2 separate regions of the Homo sapiens genome follow, and region 2 is linked to region 1. The links come from fine-mapping of genetic effects on gene expression. Tissue or cell type: whole blood. Region 1 holds a variant in brackets; the other region holds the start of a gene. All regions are shown on one strand. Distances are from middle to middle.

Region 1 (8,180 bases):
AGACAGAGTCTCACTCTGTTGCCCAGGCTGGTGTGCAGTGGCACAATCTCAGCTCACTGCAACCTCTGCCTCCTGGGTTCAAGCGATCCTCCTACCTTAGCCTCCTGAGTAGCGGGGACTACAGGCACATGCCACCATGCCCGGCTAATTTTTTGTACTTTTAGTAGAGACAGGGTTTCACCATGTTGGCCAGGCTAGTCTCAAAACACCAATTATTCTTAGGTTTGGTAATTTAACACAATCCCAGGCTTCTTGGAGGCTTTGTTCATATTTTCTTTCTTTCTTTTTTTTTTAGATGGAGTCTCGCTCTGTCGCCAGGCTGGAGTGCAATGGCACCATCTCGGCTCACTGCAACCTCCGACACCCTTGTTCAAACGATTCTCCTGCCTCAGCCTCCTGAGTAGCTGGGATTACAGGCAGGCACCACCACACTCAGCTAATTTTTGTGTCTTTAGTAGAGATGGGGTTTCACCCTGTTGGCAAGGCTGGTCTCAATCTCCTGACCTCGTGATCCGCCCGCCTCAGCCTCCCAAAGTGCTGGCATTACAGGCGTGAGCCACCCTGCCCAGACTCATATTTTCTTATTCTTTTTTCTTTGTCTTTGTTAGACCTTGTCTTCGAGCTCTGAATTTCTTTCTTCTACTTGTTCAATTCTACTGCTGAGACTTTCCAGAGCATTTTGCATTTCTATAAGTGTGTCCAGTGTTTCCTGAAGTTTTGATTGTTTTTTCTTTATGCTATCTATTTTCCTGAATATTTCTCTCTTCACTTCTTGTATTGTTTTTTGGATTTCTTTGTGCTGGGCTTCACCATTCTCTGGTGCCTCCCTGATTAGCTTAATAACTAACCTCCTGTATTCTTTTTCAGGTAAATCGGGGATCTCTTCTTGGTTTGGTTCTACTGCTGGTGAGCTACTGTGATTATTTGGGGGGTGTTACAGAGCCTTTTTTTGTCATATTACCAGAGTTGGTTTTCTGGTTCCTTCTCATTTGGATAGGCTCTATCAGAGGGAGGGTCTAAGGCTGAAGGCTGTTGTTCAGATTCTTTTGTCCCTTGAGTCTTCCCTTTTCCTATGGATGTGGCTTCCTGTGAGCCAGACTGCAGTGATTGTTGTCTTTCTTCTGGATCGAGCCACCCAGCACGTCTACCCAGCTCTGGGCTGGTACTGGGAGTTGTCTGCACAGAGCCCTGTGATGTGAACTGTCTATGGATCTCTCAGACATGGATACCAGCACCTGTTCTGGTGGAGGTGGCAGGGGAGCGCAATGGGCTCTGTGAGGGTTCTTAGCTTTGGTGGTTTAAATGCTCTATTTTTGTGCTAGTTGGCCTCCTGCTGGGAGGTGATGCTTTCCAGAGAGCATCAACTATGGTAGTATGGAGAGGAACCAGTGGTGGGTGGGGCCCTTGAAGTCCCAAGATTATATGCCCTTTGTCTTCAGCTACCAGAGTGGATAAGGAAGGCCCATCAGGTGGGGGCAGGGCTAGGCATGTCTGAGCTCAGACTATCCTTGGGCGGGTCTTGCTGTGGCTGCTGTGGGGGATGGGGTAAGGTTCCCAGGTCAATGGAGTTGTGTACCTAGGAGGATTATAGATGCCTCTGCTGAGTCATGCAGGTTGTCAGGGAAGTGGGGGAAAGCTGGCAGTCACAGGCCTCATCCACCTCCCACACAAACTAAAGAGCTGGTCCCACACCCACCATGCACCCCCTGACAGCGTCAAGTCTGTTTCTGGACAGTGGGTGGGCTGGGCTTGAGAACTTGCCCCAGGCTACCCTCCTCCCAGCTGCAACATAAAAGGGCTTTAGTTCTACCCCAGTCTGTGGAGTCTGCACACTGATATGCATCCTCCCCTGAGTTCTGGCCAGGAGGCTTCTCACCAGGTTCAAATTGTCACAAAGTTCAGCTGGAGATTTCCTTCTCCCTGTGGTGTTTTCCCTCACTCTTCTGCCCACTCTCCTGATAGATCCCTGTGGTGCCAGGCAGGAATGGCCTGCTGGGGACCCAGCAAGTTCCCAGGGCCTTTCCTACTGCTTCCTCTACACCTGTATTTTGTTGGGCTGTCTAAATTGAATCAGCTCCAGGTAAGATCAAAAACTTCTCCTGCAAACAGTCCTTCAGTTTCTCCAGAGGGGGTGTGTGTTCGGGAGAGGAGGATCTCGCTTTCCCACTTCCGCAATTGGGGCTCTCACAATATTTGGGGTGTCTCCAAGGTCCTGCAGGAGCAGTCTGCTTCCCTCAGAGGGTCTGTGGGTCCTCTCAGGATTGGTGGTCTGTTATTGCAGTTGATCTGAAGCTAAAATTCATGACGTGAGCCTCCACACACTGCTCTGTCCATCAGAGTCAGAGCTGCAGTCTAGTTCTGCCTCCCATCCGCCATGATGATCTCCAGTTAATCTTTAAAAAGAGAGTCTAGGCCAGGCGCAGTGGCTTACGCCAGCAATCCTAGCACTTTGGGAGACCGAGGCGGGTGGATCACCTGGGGTCAGGAGTTCAAGACCAGCCTGGTCAACATAGTGAAACCCCGTCTCTACTAAATATACAAAAATTAGCTGGGCGTGGTGGCAGACACCTGTAATCCCAGCTACTTGGGAGTCTGAGACAGGAGAATCACTTGAACCCAGGAGGCAGAGGTTGCAGTGAGCTGAGATCGTGCCATTGTGTTCCAGCCTGAGCAACAAAAGCAAAACTTCACCTCCAAAAAAAAAAAAGAATCTATACGCCTGAGGGACACCACATTGCAACCAAACAGTCTGTAGCTTTAGCACTCGCAGTGTCCCAGGGCCTTAGTGGCCCTGCAGAGTGAAATAGGGCAAGGGGGAGCTACTTCAAGCAGAGCCAGGCCTCTGGACCCGCAGCCTGTGCCAGAGTTCTCTCGCAAGGCAGAACAGCAGTGCAGCAATGGAGCCATTTCCTACATTTCTTGAGTTTATATGTGTAACATGGTGATAGATGTGTCAAGCAGTATCTTTCTTGTCTTCCATGTATTTCCTAACAGAACTTAACAGCTGAGAACAAAAATGGCACTGAGTACTTTTATATTCTATTTTCAGAAAACCGACATCTTTGAGTCCAATAATCTCTTTGCAAGCCTTCTGTAAATCTAAATATTGGAGGTGGGAGGTAGCACACAGAGCTCATAGTAGTGTCAATCATCTCTTCTCCCTTCTCTTCTGATGTGCGGTGATGGGAATGGGGATGTTTGGCATTCAGTTTGTCCCCTCCCCCTTGCTATTTAACTAGGAGGTGTTCAAGTTAACCCATCTACCAAGGGATCTGTTCATAGTGTCATCTATAGATTGCTAAACCAAAAAGTAGCACAATATGTAACGCCTCAGGCTTGCTGCCACTCAGTAGAGAAAGAAATGAACAAAAAAGAAAGGAGTGGTGGGACCAATGTCTTCCTACTGCATGGCATAGTAATATGTGACTGTCCTCATGATCAAATAGACATTGTGGAAAGAGGCTAGTCGCCCCAGTGGGCAAGGAAACCTAGGCCATCAAAAAGTTTTGGAAATGATTCAAGTGGCAGAGACTAAGGGTGTGTGTGTGGTAAGGAATATGTGGAGTGTTGAAACAAAAATAGCAATAAGTTGATAATTGTTAAAGCTGAGTGATAGGTACATAGAGGTTCATTATAACATTCTTTCTACCTTCGTGTGTTTAAAACTTTTAACAATAAACATGTTTTTTGGCCAGGTGTGGTGGTTCATGTCTGTAGTCCCAGCACTTTGGAAGGCCAAGGCAGGAGGATCACTTGAGCTCAGGAGTTCGAGACCAGCCTGAGCAACATGGTGAGATCCCTGTCTCTACAAAAAATAAAATAAAATTAGCTGGGCGCGGTGACATGCAGCTGTAGTCCCAGGTACTTGGAAGGCTGAGCCAGGATGTTGAGGCTGTAGTGATCTGTGATCCTGCCACTGCACTCCAGCCTGGGAGATTGAGCAAGATCCTATCTCATAAAATAAAATTTTAAAAAATCAAACAATAAACATGTTTTTTAAGGTTATGGAATTGGACTGAATTGTGAAGATCGCCTGATATCACAGGGAAAGTCAACAGAACTTTTTTTTTTTTTTTTTTTTTTTTGAGTCTTTGCTCTGTCGCCCAGGCTGGAGTGCAGTGGCACAATCTCAGCTCACTGCAAGCTCCGCCTCCCGGGTTC[A/C]CACCATTCTCCTGCCTCAGCCTCCCGAGTAGCTGGGACTACAGGCGCCCGCCGCCACGCCCGGCTAATTTTTTGTATTTTTTAGTAGAGACGGGGTTTCACCGTGTTAGCCAGGATGGTCTCAATCTCCTGACCTCATGATCCGCCCGCCTCGGCCTCCCAAAGTGCTGGGATTACAGGTGTGAGCCACCACGCCTGGCCCAAGAGAACATTTTTGGTAACAGTTTCAGGAAGGGAAGTTACATCTTTTTATATATTTATTCATTTTTTAATTAATGGGGTGCTACACACTTTTTTTTTTTTTTTTGAGACAGCCTTGCCCTGTCTTCCAGACTGGAGTGCAGTGGCACAATCATGACTCAATGCAACCTCCACCTCCTGGACTCAGGTGATCTTCTTGCCTTAGGAAGGACTACAGGTACGCCACCATGCCTGGCTAATTTTTGTATTTTTTGTAGACATGGGGTTTTGCCATTTTACCCAGGCTGATCTTGAACTCCTGGGCTTAAGTGATCCACCTGCCTCAGTCTCTGGAAGTGTTGGAATTACAGGTGTGAGCCACTGCACCAGGTGAAAAATTACATATTAATGAATTAAGACTTTGCTATGATCTGAATATCTGTGTCCCACCCCCCCCCCATCAAATTCATATGTTGAAATCCTAGCCCCCAGGGGTGATGGTACTAGAAAGTGAGGTCCTTGAGTGGATTCGTGACCTTATAAAAGAGGGCCAAGAGAGACTCCTCATCCCTTATATTATGTGAGGTCACAGCAAGAAGATGCCATCTATGAGGAAGCGGGCCCTTACCAGACACCTAATCTTATCTTGTTCTTGGACTTCCCAGGTTCCAGAACTGTGAGAAGTTTCTGTTGTTTATAAGCTACCCAGTTTATGGTATTTTGTTATAGCAGCCAGAGTGGACAAAGACAGACTTATTATTCCAACATTTTATAAGTCCAACCACCAAAAGAAATGTTCTTGTCTTCCTGAAGAAGTGCCTCACTTTTTCTTTAACTGTGATCCAGTCAAGTATGGCTTAGAAAATAGTCACAGGAGTTTCCACTGTAGACAAGAGGTAGACAAAGGAGCTTCCTGCAAACTGGAAAAATATTTTTAAATTTCCTATACATAAACAACAAATCGGTGGAAATGCAATAAAAAGAAAAAAATCCTGTTCACAATAGCAAATAATTTGTTTTAGCAAAAGACACTCTACGGCTAAACTTAATAAAAATGTACAAGACCTGATGAAGAAAACTATAAAATGTTACTGCAGAATATAGATGATAGAATAAATGCAGAGTTATACTTGTTTCTGTTTAGAGTCAATATTCTAAAGATGTTGATTACTTCTAAATTTATAAAGGCCATATAATTGCAATGAAAATGTTAACTTTTTGGGGAACTTGAAAAATGATTCTAAAGTTTTCATTAAAAATAAATATATAGCCAGGCATGGTGGCTCATGCCTGTAATCCTAGCACTTTGGGAGGCCTAGGCAGGTGGATCACAGGATCAGGAGTTTGAGACCAGCCTGACCAACATGGTGAAACTCCATCTCTACTAAAAATACAAAAATTAGCCAGGCATGGTGGCGCATGCCTGTAGTCCCAGCTACTCAGGAGGCTGAGGCAGGAGAATCGCTTGAACCCAGGAGGCAGAGGTTGCAGTGAGCTGAGATCGCACCACTGCACTCCAGCCTGGGCAACAAAGAGAGACTCTGTCTCAAAAAAATAATAACAATAAAAATAAATATTTTGGAAAAATTGGAAAAGAAGCATATTGGGGGGGACTTAGCATACCAGATATTAAAACCTACTATAAAACAATTTTAGGCTGGACGTGGTGGCTCACGTCTGTAATCCCAGCATTTTGGGAGGCTGAGGCGGGTGGATCACGAGGTCAGGAGATCGAGACCATCCTGGCTAACACGGTGAAACCCCATCTCTGCTAAAAATACAAAAAATGAGCCGGGCATGGTGGCGTGTGCCTGTAGTCCCAGCTACTCGGGAGGCTGAGGCAGGAGAATGGCATGAACCCAGGAGGCAGAGCTTGCAGTGAGCCGAGATCGTCGCCCCATTGCACTCCAGCCTGCGAGACAAAGCAAGACTCTGTCTCAAAAAAAAAAAAAAAAAAAAATTTAATATAGCATTCAATTAAATAGACCCAAGAAAATATGATAATTTGCTATATGGTTGCATTTTAATTCAGGGAGGGAGACAAAGATTATTCAATAAATTATACTGGAAGAACTAACAGCAACTTGAAAAAAAAAGTTAATTCTGACCTTTTTTTTTTTTTTTTTTTTTTGAGATGGAGTTTCACTCTCGTCATCCAGGCTAGAGTGCAATGGTGTGATCTCAGCTCACTGCAACCTCTGCCTCCTGGGTTCAAGCGATTCTCCTGCCTCAGCCTCTAGAGTTGCTGGGATTACAGGCGTGCACCACCACGCCCGGCTAATTTTGTATTTTTAGTAGAGATGGGGTTTCTCAATGTTGGTCAGGCTTGTCTCAAACTCCCAACCTCAGGTGATCCGCCCTCTTCTCAAGGTGCTGGGATTATAGGCGTGAGCCACCGTGCTTGGCCATTCTTATCTTTTTTTAAACAACTAAATAAATTTCAGATATATTAACAGTTAAATGTAAAAAAAACTACAAATGTGCTAGAAAACACATTTGACTCTTTATTAATGAAATGTAGAAGGCCAGGCGCAGTGGCTCACACCTGTAATCCCAGCACTCTGGGAGACTGAGGCAGGCGGATCACCTGAGGTCAGGAGTTCAAGACCAGCCTGGCCAACATGGTGAAACCCTGTCTCTACTAAAAATACAAAATTAGCTGGGTGTGTTGACAGGCGCCTGTAATCCCAGCTACTTGGGAGGCTGAGGCAGAAGGATTGCTTGAACCCAGGAGGCTGAGGTTGCAGTGAACGAGACTGTGCCACTGCACTCCAGCCTGGGCAACAAGATCATAATTCTGTCTCAAAACAGAAAAAAAAAAAGAAAGAAAAGTAGAAGAGTACAAAATTTCTTTATGAGCTTGCTCTTTTCAACCTCAAATAAATAAAGCTGACAAAATCCATGTTGGTAAGGATATGGGGAAAAAAAGCAACCTCCTCTATAGTCGGTAGCAGTATAAATTTATAAATTTGTATAAATTTCCAATATACTTGAAATGTCTCATTGACCCATCAATTTTACATATATGAATTTACTCTAAGGATATAATATTACACATGGGAAGAGATATATGCACTGGAATTACTTATAATATTGAAAAATTGTAGGCCGGCACGGTGGCTCACACCTGTAATCCCAGCACTTTGGGAGGCCGAGGTGGGCGGATCACCTGAGGTTGGGATTTCGAGACCAAACTGACCAACATGGGGAAACCTCGTCTCTACTAAAAATACAAAATTTGCTAAGTGTGGTGGCACATGCCTGTGATCCCAGCTACTGGGGAGGCTGAGGCAGGAGAATTGCTTGAACCCGGGAGGCGGAGGTTGCGGTGAGCCAAGATCGCGCCATTGCACTCCAGCCTGGGCAACAAGAGCAAAACTCCATCTCAAAAAAAGAAAAATTGTAAACAACTTAGAAGTCCATCTCTAAAGTATTGTTAGTTATAGAATGTCTGTTTGCTTTCAAAGGGAACAAATAACCTTGTCTTCAACAAGACAAATGTATTTTTTTTTTTTTGAGACGGAGTCTCGCTCTGTCGCCCAGGCTGGAGTGCAGTGGCGCGATCTCAGCTCACTGCAACCTCCGCCTCCCGGGTTCAAGAGATTCTCCTGCCTCAACCTCTTAAGTAGCTGGGATTACAGGTGCGCGCTACCATGCCCGGCTAATTTTTGTATTTTTAGTAGAGTCAGGGTTTCTCCATGTTGCTCAGGCTGGTCTCAAACTCCTGACCTTGTGATCCGTCTGCCTTGGCCTCCCAAAGTGCTGGGATTACAGGCGTGAGCCACCACGCCCAGCCGACAAATGTATTTTTCACACAAAATTGCAATGAGGATAGGAGG
Region 2 (8,180 bases), 32 kb after region 1:
CAAGATAGTTGTGATTCCTGCTTCTGTGGGGTTTGTAGGCTTCCAAAGGAGCAATGATCATTCATTAGTTCAACAAATACTGAGGGCCCACTATGTGCCAGGTGCTATTCTAGGCACTTGGGTATATCAGTGTACAATAAAGATCTCTGAGCAAGTCCAGTGGATTGTGCCTGTAATCCCAGATACTTGGGAGACTGAGGTGGGAGAATCGCTACAGCCCAGGAGTTAAGACCAGCCTGGGCAACATAGCAACGATCCTGTCTCTAAAAATAAAAATTTTAAAAATTGTACTGGAGAGGCTGAGGCGGGATGATTGTTTGAGTCCAGGAGTTTGAGACTGCAGTGAGCTGTCATCACACCACTGCACTCTAGCCTGGGCAGCAGTGAGACTCTGTCTCAAAAATAAATAAATAAATAAATAAATAGTATAGCATGTTAGAAAGCGGGAAGTACTATAGGAGAAAAAAATGTAGAGATGAATAATGGGGATGAAGATTGACAATTATCTAATTCTGATTGTGAGCATACTTAGCCTCATTGATCTTATTACAGGTCTGTGTACAACCTTAGGCAGTACCTGAGGCATGAGAGTGTGATAATAGTAGAGCGTATTCAGCAAGTGTAAGAATGTTTGCATGTATGGTCGGCCCGGTAATCCCAGGATTTTGGGAGGCCTTGGTGGGCGGATCACTTGAGATTGGGAGTTCAAGACCAGCCTGGCCAACATGATGAAACCCTGTCTCTACTAAAAATACAAAATTAGTCCTGCATGGTGGCAAGTGCCTGTAGTGTCAGCTGCTTGGAAGGCTGAGGCAGAATTGCTTGAGCCCGGGAGGTGGAGGTTGCATGCAGTGAGCCAAGATCATGCCACTGCACTCTGGCCTGGGCAACAGTGAGACTCTGTCTCAAACAAAACAAAACACACACAGCTGGGCACAGTGGCTCAAGTCTGTAATCCCAGCACTTTGGGAGGCCGAGGCAGGCGGATCACCTGAGGTCACGAGTTCGAGATCAGCCTGACCAACATGGAGAAACCCCGTCTCTACTAAAAATACAAAATGAGCTGGGCTTGGTGGTGCATGCCTGTAATCCCACCTACTCGGGAAGCTGAGGCAGGAGAATCACTTGAACCCGGGAGGCGGGGTTGCAGTGAGCTGAGATAGTGCCATTGCACTCCAGCCTGGGCAACAAGAGCAAAACTCTGTCTCAAAACACACACACACACACACCACACTCACTGTCCTTGCTTCCATAGGATCTATTCCTAGGAGCCTTGGCAATTTAACTTTATGGAGAAGGATAAGTAGGATGCTGTGTTCAATAGTTAGTAGGTCCTCATTAAATAAGTTTCCTTTCTATCCAGAAACGTACTTTAAAAGCCTCATGTTATTGTGGTTGGAGAAGTCAACTTTGATAAATTGGCCATTTACTTACTTTTTGACTTGTGTGGTGGACTTGGACTCCTTTTTCTTGATGGTAGTGATGAGGGCAAGAATGTCATCTAGACATAAAGGACCTGATTTCGCATAACTGAAAATTTAGTGCTGGAAAAATTAAGATTACCATGGCAAAATACTCTTCAAAATTACACAATTTAGTGTTTTCAAAGGCTTAAGTGGAGCTTTTATGCTGGATTTACGTGATGAATGGAATAAACTGATTCAAACATTAGAAGGGACATGCTTAAAAAAAAAACCTACCACAATTAAAATTTTGGAACATGATCTTAAATTCCTGTGAAAGGGCATGAAGAGTTTGTGTGTGTGTTTCGTTTTTTGAGACGAAGTCTTGCTCTGTCGCCCAGGCTGGAGTGCAGTGGCACAATTTCTGCTCGCTGCAACCTCTGCCTCCCAGGTTCAAGTGATTCTCCTGCCTCAGCCCCCCGAGTAGCTGGGATTACAGGCACCTGTCACCACGCCCGGCTAATTTTTGTATTTTTAGTGGAGACGGGTTTTCACCATGTTGGCCAGGCTGCTCTCAAAACTCATGACCTCGTGATCCCCCCCACCCCCCGTGCCTCGGCCTCCCAAAGTGCTGGATTTTACAGGCATGAGCCACCTTGCGGTATGTTAATTTGGGGGAAAACAACAGGGACAATTGGGGAAAAATTTTGTTTTGTGAATTACCAATGGAAGAACTAATCACAGGCTAAGCAACATGCTTACGGTTGAATTTGCCAAATTTAAGATGTACATACTATGATGTAGCATGTGTATTTATTTGCACATGCAGTGGGACAATTCCTACAGTTGTCTCACACTGCTGTAGATTATTAGCAACTCCATCCTGCAGTGACATCGCTTTTCTGAATTCTATAGCACTTTTCACCTAATCCTCTGATTAGTCTGTATTTTCCGGTTCAAGTGTATCTTGTTTTTCGTTTGCTCCACTTCCCTTGTCCCTTGCACCCCACTAACAGGAAAATTCCTGGTGGTCAAAATGGCTCTAATTCTTTTTGTATACCCGGGCTTAATTCAATAGGAATTGGGATAACTTTTCAATATTTAAAAAATTTGCACTGTGAAAACGTATATTTTAAACTCTTTCTACAACTTTTCATATTTGAAGAACATATGGCAGGAAGTGGATGCTTTTGATGAAGCCAAAAGAATTTTTTTAACTTCTATTGCTAATTAACAAGGAGGTGGCCGCGGGAGCTCTTTTTTTTTTTTTTTTTTTGAGACGGAGTTTCACTCTTGTTGCCCAGGCTGGAGTGCAGTGGCGCGATCTCAGCTCACCGCAACCTCCGCCTCCCGAGTTCAAGCGATTCTCCTGCCTCAGACTCCCGAGTAGCTGGGATTACAGGCATGCACCACCAGGCCCCGCTAATTTTGTACTTATAGTAGAGACGGGGTTTCTCAGGCTGGTTCGAACTTCCGACCTCATGTGATCCACCCGCCTCCGCCACCCAAAGTGCTGGGATTACAGGCGTGAGCCACCGCGCCCGGGCCAGGCGGGAGCTTTAGGTCTTATTTTATCTTGCTCTGCCCCCGACATCGTGGTGAGAGGGGAACCTTCCTCATATCTGGGCGCTGGCCTCTCCGGGCTTGGGAGAGAGGAACTCAGTGATCATAGAGCTGGCCGAATGCCGGGGTAGAGGGGACCGGAAGTTGTTTTTTTCGCCCCCGCCCAGCGGCCGGATCGCATCTCAGCTGGTTGGCTTTGGTTAGAGCTCCCGTCAGACTTTAGTTCGGCCCTAGGATTTGGTAGCCCCGAAGTGTGGGCTCTCTCCAGTACCAGACTCATTTCAGTACCAGCCTTTGGGAAGTCGTGTGAATACCTCGGTCTCTTAGCCACAGGGATAGAATGGCGGCCTGACGGAGCCGCGGCGCCGGCGAAGTCGCTGAGGCGCGAGCTGGAACCCCCAGACCAGCTCAAACGGGAGCCAAAACTCGAAGCTTGGAAGAATTAGCAGGAAATGGCGGATGAGGCGTTGTTTTTGCTTCTCCATAACGAGATGGTGTCTGGAGTGTACAAGTCCGCGGAGCAGGGGGAGGTGGTGAGTGCTGCCACACAACCTTGAGGTCCTTTTGCGGTGACACACCTTGTTTCCCCTCAGTGCTTTCCTTCAACCCCTGTCCCATCGCCACCCGACGCCTCCCGAGGTGTACACAAAATGGTCCACCTCCAGGTGTCCTAAACCCTAGAACCTGTCAGTTGTCTCCTTTGAACCGTCATCTTTCATCGTTTTCTCTTTCGTATCTTCTTCTATTTGATTCTCTTTTGTCTATTCCCGTACGTTTGTCTTGCACGCCACAGATTTTGGTACTTTTAGTGTTGTCCCTGCCATTATTTACGAGAGGGTTAACTGCAGAGCCTACTTAGTTTTGCTGGCACTTCCAGCACTTGAGCCATGCACTGGACAGACCTGTGCCAACCTGAGAAGCCTGTCCCTCCTTCCTCATTCCTAATGCTCAGTACAACTCCACACAACTTGAGACCTGAAGCCTAATGAAGGTTGAGTTTGCAAAGGAAAGTTTGCAGGCGTTAGGATAATTAGGGAACATAATTTAAATTAATTATTTCAGAAAGTATTTATTTAGTGCCCTTATGTCAGAGCGATTTCTAGGTGCCAGGGATATAGTAGTGAATGAAACAATGGCCCCATCCTTGTAGAGATTTTTTTTTAATCTAATTTAATCCGAAATGTGATAGTATGTAGCGGTTACTTCTAATATGTGGGAGTCCTTATTCAATCATTGTGGGCCTGTCACTGCTGACACTGCTAGATAAATTAAATAAAATAATACTCCTGCCTCACAGTATTTAGGGAATAGTGATTTAATGAATAGTTAACACTGAGTATTGGCTGGTAGAATCATGGAGTTGTAACGGATTTTAGAAATACTCCAAAGTCATGCTCAAGTCAGGAGCCCTTTCTTTAATGCTATTGATAAAAAATGAGTGGAGAGTGGGGATAGGAAATGTATCCTAGGCAAAGATAAAGTGGTAGAGGTATGAAAGAGTGGTGGATTTAAATACACTTAAGCATTTCTTTGGACTAGACTGAATAGAGAGTGAGAAGAATTGAGAGGTGAAGTTAGAAAGCTTTGTGTAATTAAAGAATTCGGATCTTTTCGAGGGAATATTTTTAAGGAAGGGAATGATGTGGACCATTTGCATTTTAGAAAAGTAATCCAGTGTTTGGGCTAGAGAGGGAAGATCCTTGTAGGGGGAAAATCCTTTATTACGGGAGTCACTGCAGGAGGAGATGAAGATCTGGATTAAGACAGGGATAGTGAGAAAAGGAGATAACAGATTTGAAAGTTAGAAAGTGGAATTCTGTAGGCCTTGTTTAAGGATGGGAGTGGGAGTTGAAAATTATCGTCAGGTTTTCAGCTTGAGCAGCTGGGTTGGATGGTGGTACTATTAATCAGAAAAGGAAATAAAGGAGAAGAAAAAAATAAGGAGGTAAGATAATGAGTTATTTCGGGGCAGGTTGAACTTTTGAGGTGCCTGTATGACATCCAAAAAAAGGTACTGCCAGTTTGCACAAGAAGGATAGGCAGGATACATTTGGAAGGTTATTGGAAATGAAGCGAATTCTATTCTTATTCAAATGACCCATCTATAATAGAGATTTTTTTCAAGTCACAAACTTCTGACTTTATTATTGACCTCAAGGTTTACTGTTTGTGCAAAGCTAGCCTTCCTTTTCCCTCTAGAACAGTTAACACACCCCTTTTACTTTTTTGTCATAACCCCCGATCCCCCCAAACCACTTGCGTATTCAGTTCTCTTCATTCTCCCCTCCCTTCTTACCTTTCCTCTTCTCTCTCTCTCTTTTTTTTTTTTTTTAGATGGAGTTTTGTTCTTGTCTCCCAGGCTGGAGTGCAGTGGTGTGATCTCAGCTCACTGCAGCCTCCGCCTCTTGGGTTCAAGCGATTCTCCTGCTTCAGCCTCCTGAGTATCTGGAATTACAGGTGCCGGCCACCATGCCTGACTAATTTTTTTGTATTTTTAGTAGAGACGGAGTTTCACCCTGTTGACCAGGCTGTTCTTGAACTTCTGACCTCAGGTGATCTGCCCGCCTTGGCCTCCCAAAGTGCTGGGATTACAAGCGTAAGCCACTGCGCCTGGCCCTTTTCTGACTCTTGTCTAGAATAATATTTTTTCTTCTTTTTAAAATATCTTTTTTTTTTCCCGTGGGTTAATCCTAAATAAAATGAACAGAGCTGTTCTACTCAGGCCTGATAATTTTAAGAGATGGACTAACATACAAGAGAAAGGAAGTTCATAGTTTTGAATCATTTAAGCTAAAAATAACTTTCTTTTTCTACTGCAGTGTATTTATGATGGGGGGGAAAATTGAAAGTACATAATAAGCAAAAATTATATAAATAACAGTTATGTGGTAGTCTTCATAATCAGAACCCATACTGAAATACGGGTATATAAGGGTTCACATTAGTGTCCATACTTTGAGTGTGCTTGAAATTTTTCATCATGAAAAATGTAAAAGATACATAATCCTGTCATCCAGAGGTGATTTTTAGAGATTTTTTTCAGACATAAAAAGATCTGTAAAAACTATGTTGTTTATGTCTGAAAAGACCTATAAAATCCATTTCTCGCTGACAGGATTATGTGTCTTTTTTTTTGTTTTTGTTATGGAAAGTTTTTTTAAATGAAATAAAGTTTTATAAATTTTCAGTATAGCAAAATAAACTTCCATAAGACTTGAGGTGAGATAAAAGAAAGAAACAGTGTTCTAACCCTCCAAATCAAGGTTTTTCAAACTATGCTTAAAGAGGAATTCTCTTAAAATGGACTAATTGGGCATTTCTCAATTTATGGTGAATGGATTTTGAAAGGCTAATGGATAAAATGTTCTCAAGTTGAATTTTTCTTAAAAATTTGGTGCCTACTCAAAAGTGCATGAACAAGTAGCAAAATTAAGTAGTAGGGCTTAATTCAAAAGCTCATGTGATCATAGGATTTGAAAGTGTCTGCATATAAGCATATTGTAACTGCCCAGTGGGTTCTTCTTCCCCACTGCCCAGGTAGAGCTGATCTATCAAGACAGGAGAATTGCAATAAGGAGTTTATGTAGAGCTGCTAAATGGGAGAGCAGAGTTTTATTATTGCTCAAATCAGCCTCCCCAAACATGCAGAGTCTAGGGTTTATCAAGGATAGTTTGGTAGGCTGGGGGCTGGGGAATGGGTGCTCCTGGTTGGTTGGGGATGCAGTTACAGAGGTGGGGGCCAGAGGACCAGTTGGAGTCATCCGAAATGCAAAAGTCTGAAAAGACATCTCAAAAGGCCTTTTTTAGGTTCTACAATAGTGATATTATTTACAGGAGTAATTGGGGAAGTTACAAATCTGTGACTTCCAGAATAATGTCTGATTATCATTTAACTACCTACATTTTAGCAGAATTCAGACCCCTCTCATAAGCCTAACCTTATAGTCTTTCATTAGTTTTGCAAAGGTGATTTAGTTTCGGGAAGGGCTATTATCATTCTTGCTTTAAGCTTACACTATAAACTAAATTTCTCCCAAAGTTAGCTTGGGCTGCATCCAGAAATGACCAAGGGCAGCTTGGAGGTTAAAGGCAAGATGGAGTTGATTAGGTGAGATCTCTTTTACAGTCATGATTTTCTTACTGTTACAATCTTTGCAAAGGTGGTTTCAATAGTTCCTGCTAATAAATATGTTCCTAGGTGATTCTACAGAGAGCAGATTATTCCAAAAAGAGCATCATGATTTACAGACACTTATTCTAGCTGAACTTGTTTTTTTGTTTTTTTTTTTTTTAAGAGACAAGTCTCTGGGTTAGTGTGGTGGCTCACACCTGTAAATCCCAGCACTTTGGAAGGCTGAGGTGGGAGAATTACTTGAGCCCAGGAGTTGGAGACCAACCTGGGCAACATAGTGAAACAGTGTCTCTATTTAAATAAAAAAAAAAAGAGGCTGGACACGGTGGCTCAGGCCTGTAATCCTAGCACTTTGGGAGGCCAAGGCAGGCAGGTCACAAGGACAGGAGTTCCAGGCCAGCCTGGCCAACATGGTGAAACTCCGTCTCTACTAAAAATACAAAAAATAGCTGGGTGTGGTGGTGCACGCATGTAGTCCCAGCTACTCGGGAGGCTGAGGCAGAAGAATCACTTGAACCCAGGAGGCGGAGGTTGCATTGAGCCGAGATTGTGTCACTGCACTCCAACCTGGGTGACAGAGCAAGACTCAGTCTCAAAAAAAAACAGAGAGAGAGAGAGAGAGACAATGTCTTGCTCTGTCATGCAGGCTGAAATGCAGTGTTGGGACTTTGGCTCACTGCAGCCTTGACCTCCTGGGCTTAAGTGATCCTCCCACATCAGCCTCTCGAATAGCTAGGGCTATGGGCATGCTACCATGTCCAGCTAATTAAAAAAATTTTTTTTTGTAGAAACAGAGTCTTGCTATGTTGCTCAGGCTGGTCTCAGACTCCTAGTCTCAAGTGACCCTCCTGCCTCAGCCTCCTACGGTGCTGGGATTATAGGCATGAGCACTGCGCCTGGCCTCATCCTAAGCATGTTTGAGAAGTGTGGAGAATAGCAGAAAAACTGAAGATAGTGATACGTACAGTAATAGATGTATGTACAGAATTTTACGACAGCATAGGGCCTAAGGAAGTTTCAGGGAAGCCATCTGGGAGAATGTAATACTTGAGCAGAATTTAAAGAATGTGAATGCCAGGCGC

The links. PIP is the estimated chance that this variant, and not a neighbour inherited with it, causes the effect.
Region 2: it holds the start of TRAPPC6B, and the variant in region 1 is fine-mapped to the expression of TRAPPC6B in whole blood (TOPMed, PIP above 0.99). The same link has a PIP of 0.9 or more in lung.

The regions. Positions count from the first base shown.
Region 1 is chr14:39,197,539-39,205,718 of GRCh38, reverse strand. It overlaps the pseudogene LOC100313942. Among named protein-coding and RNA genes, the nearest start is that of PNN-AS1, 26 kb to the right of the region's middle. RefSeq lists enhancers at 689-1,456, 778-1,977, 1,457-2,223. The variant A/C (reference allele first, on the strand shown) is at 4,162.
Region 2 is chr14:39,165,334-39,173,513 of GRCh38, reverse strand. TRAPPC6B (trafficking protein particle complex subunit 6B) reads left to right here and starts at 3,181. Exons shown (of 6, transcript NM_001079537.2): 1 at 3,181-3,499. The coding sequence starts at 3,419. RefSeq lists enhancers at 1,954-2,543, 3,325-3,374, 3,134-3,723.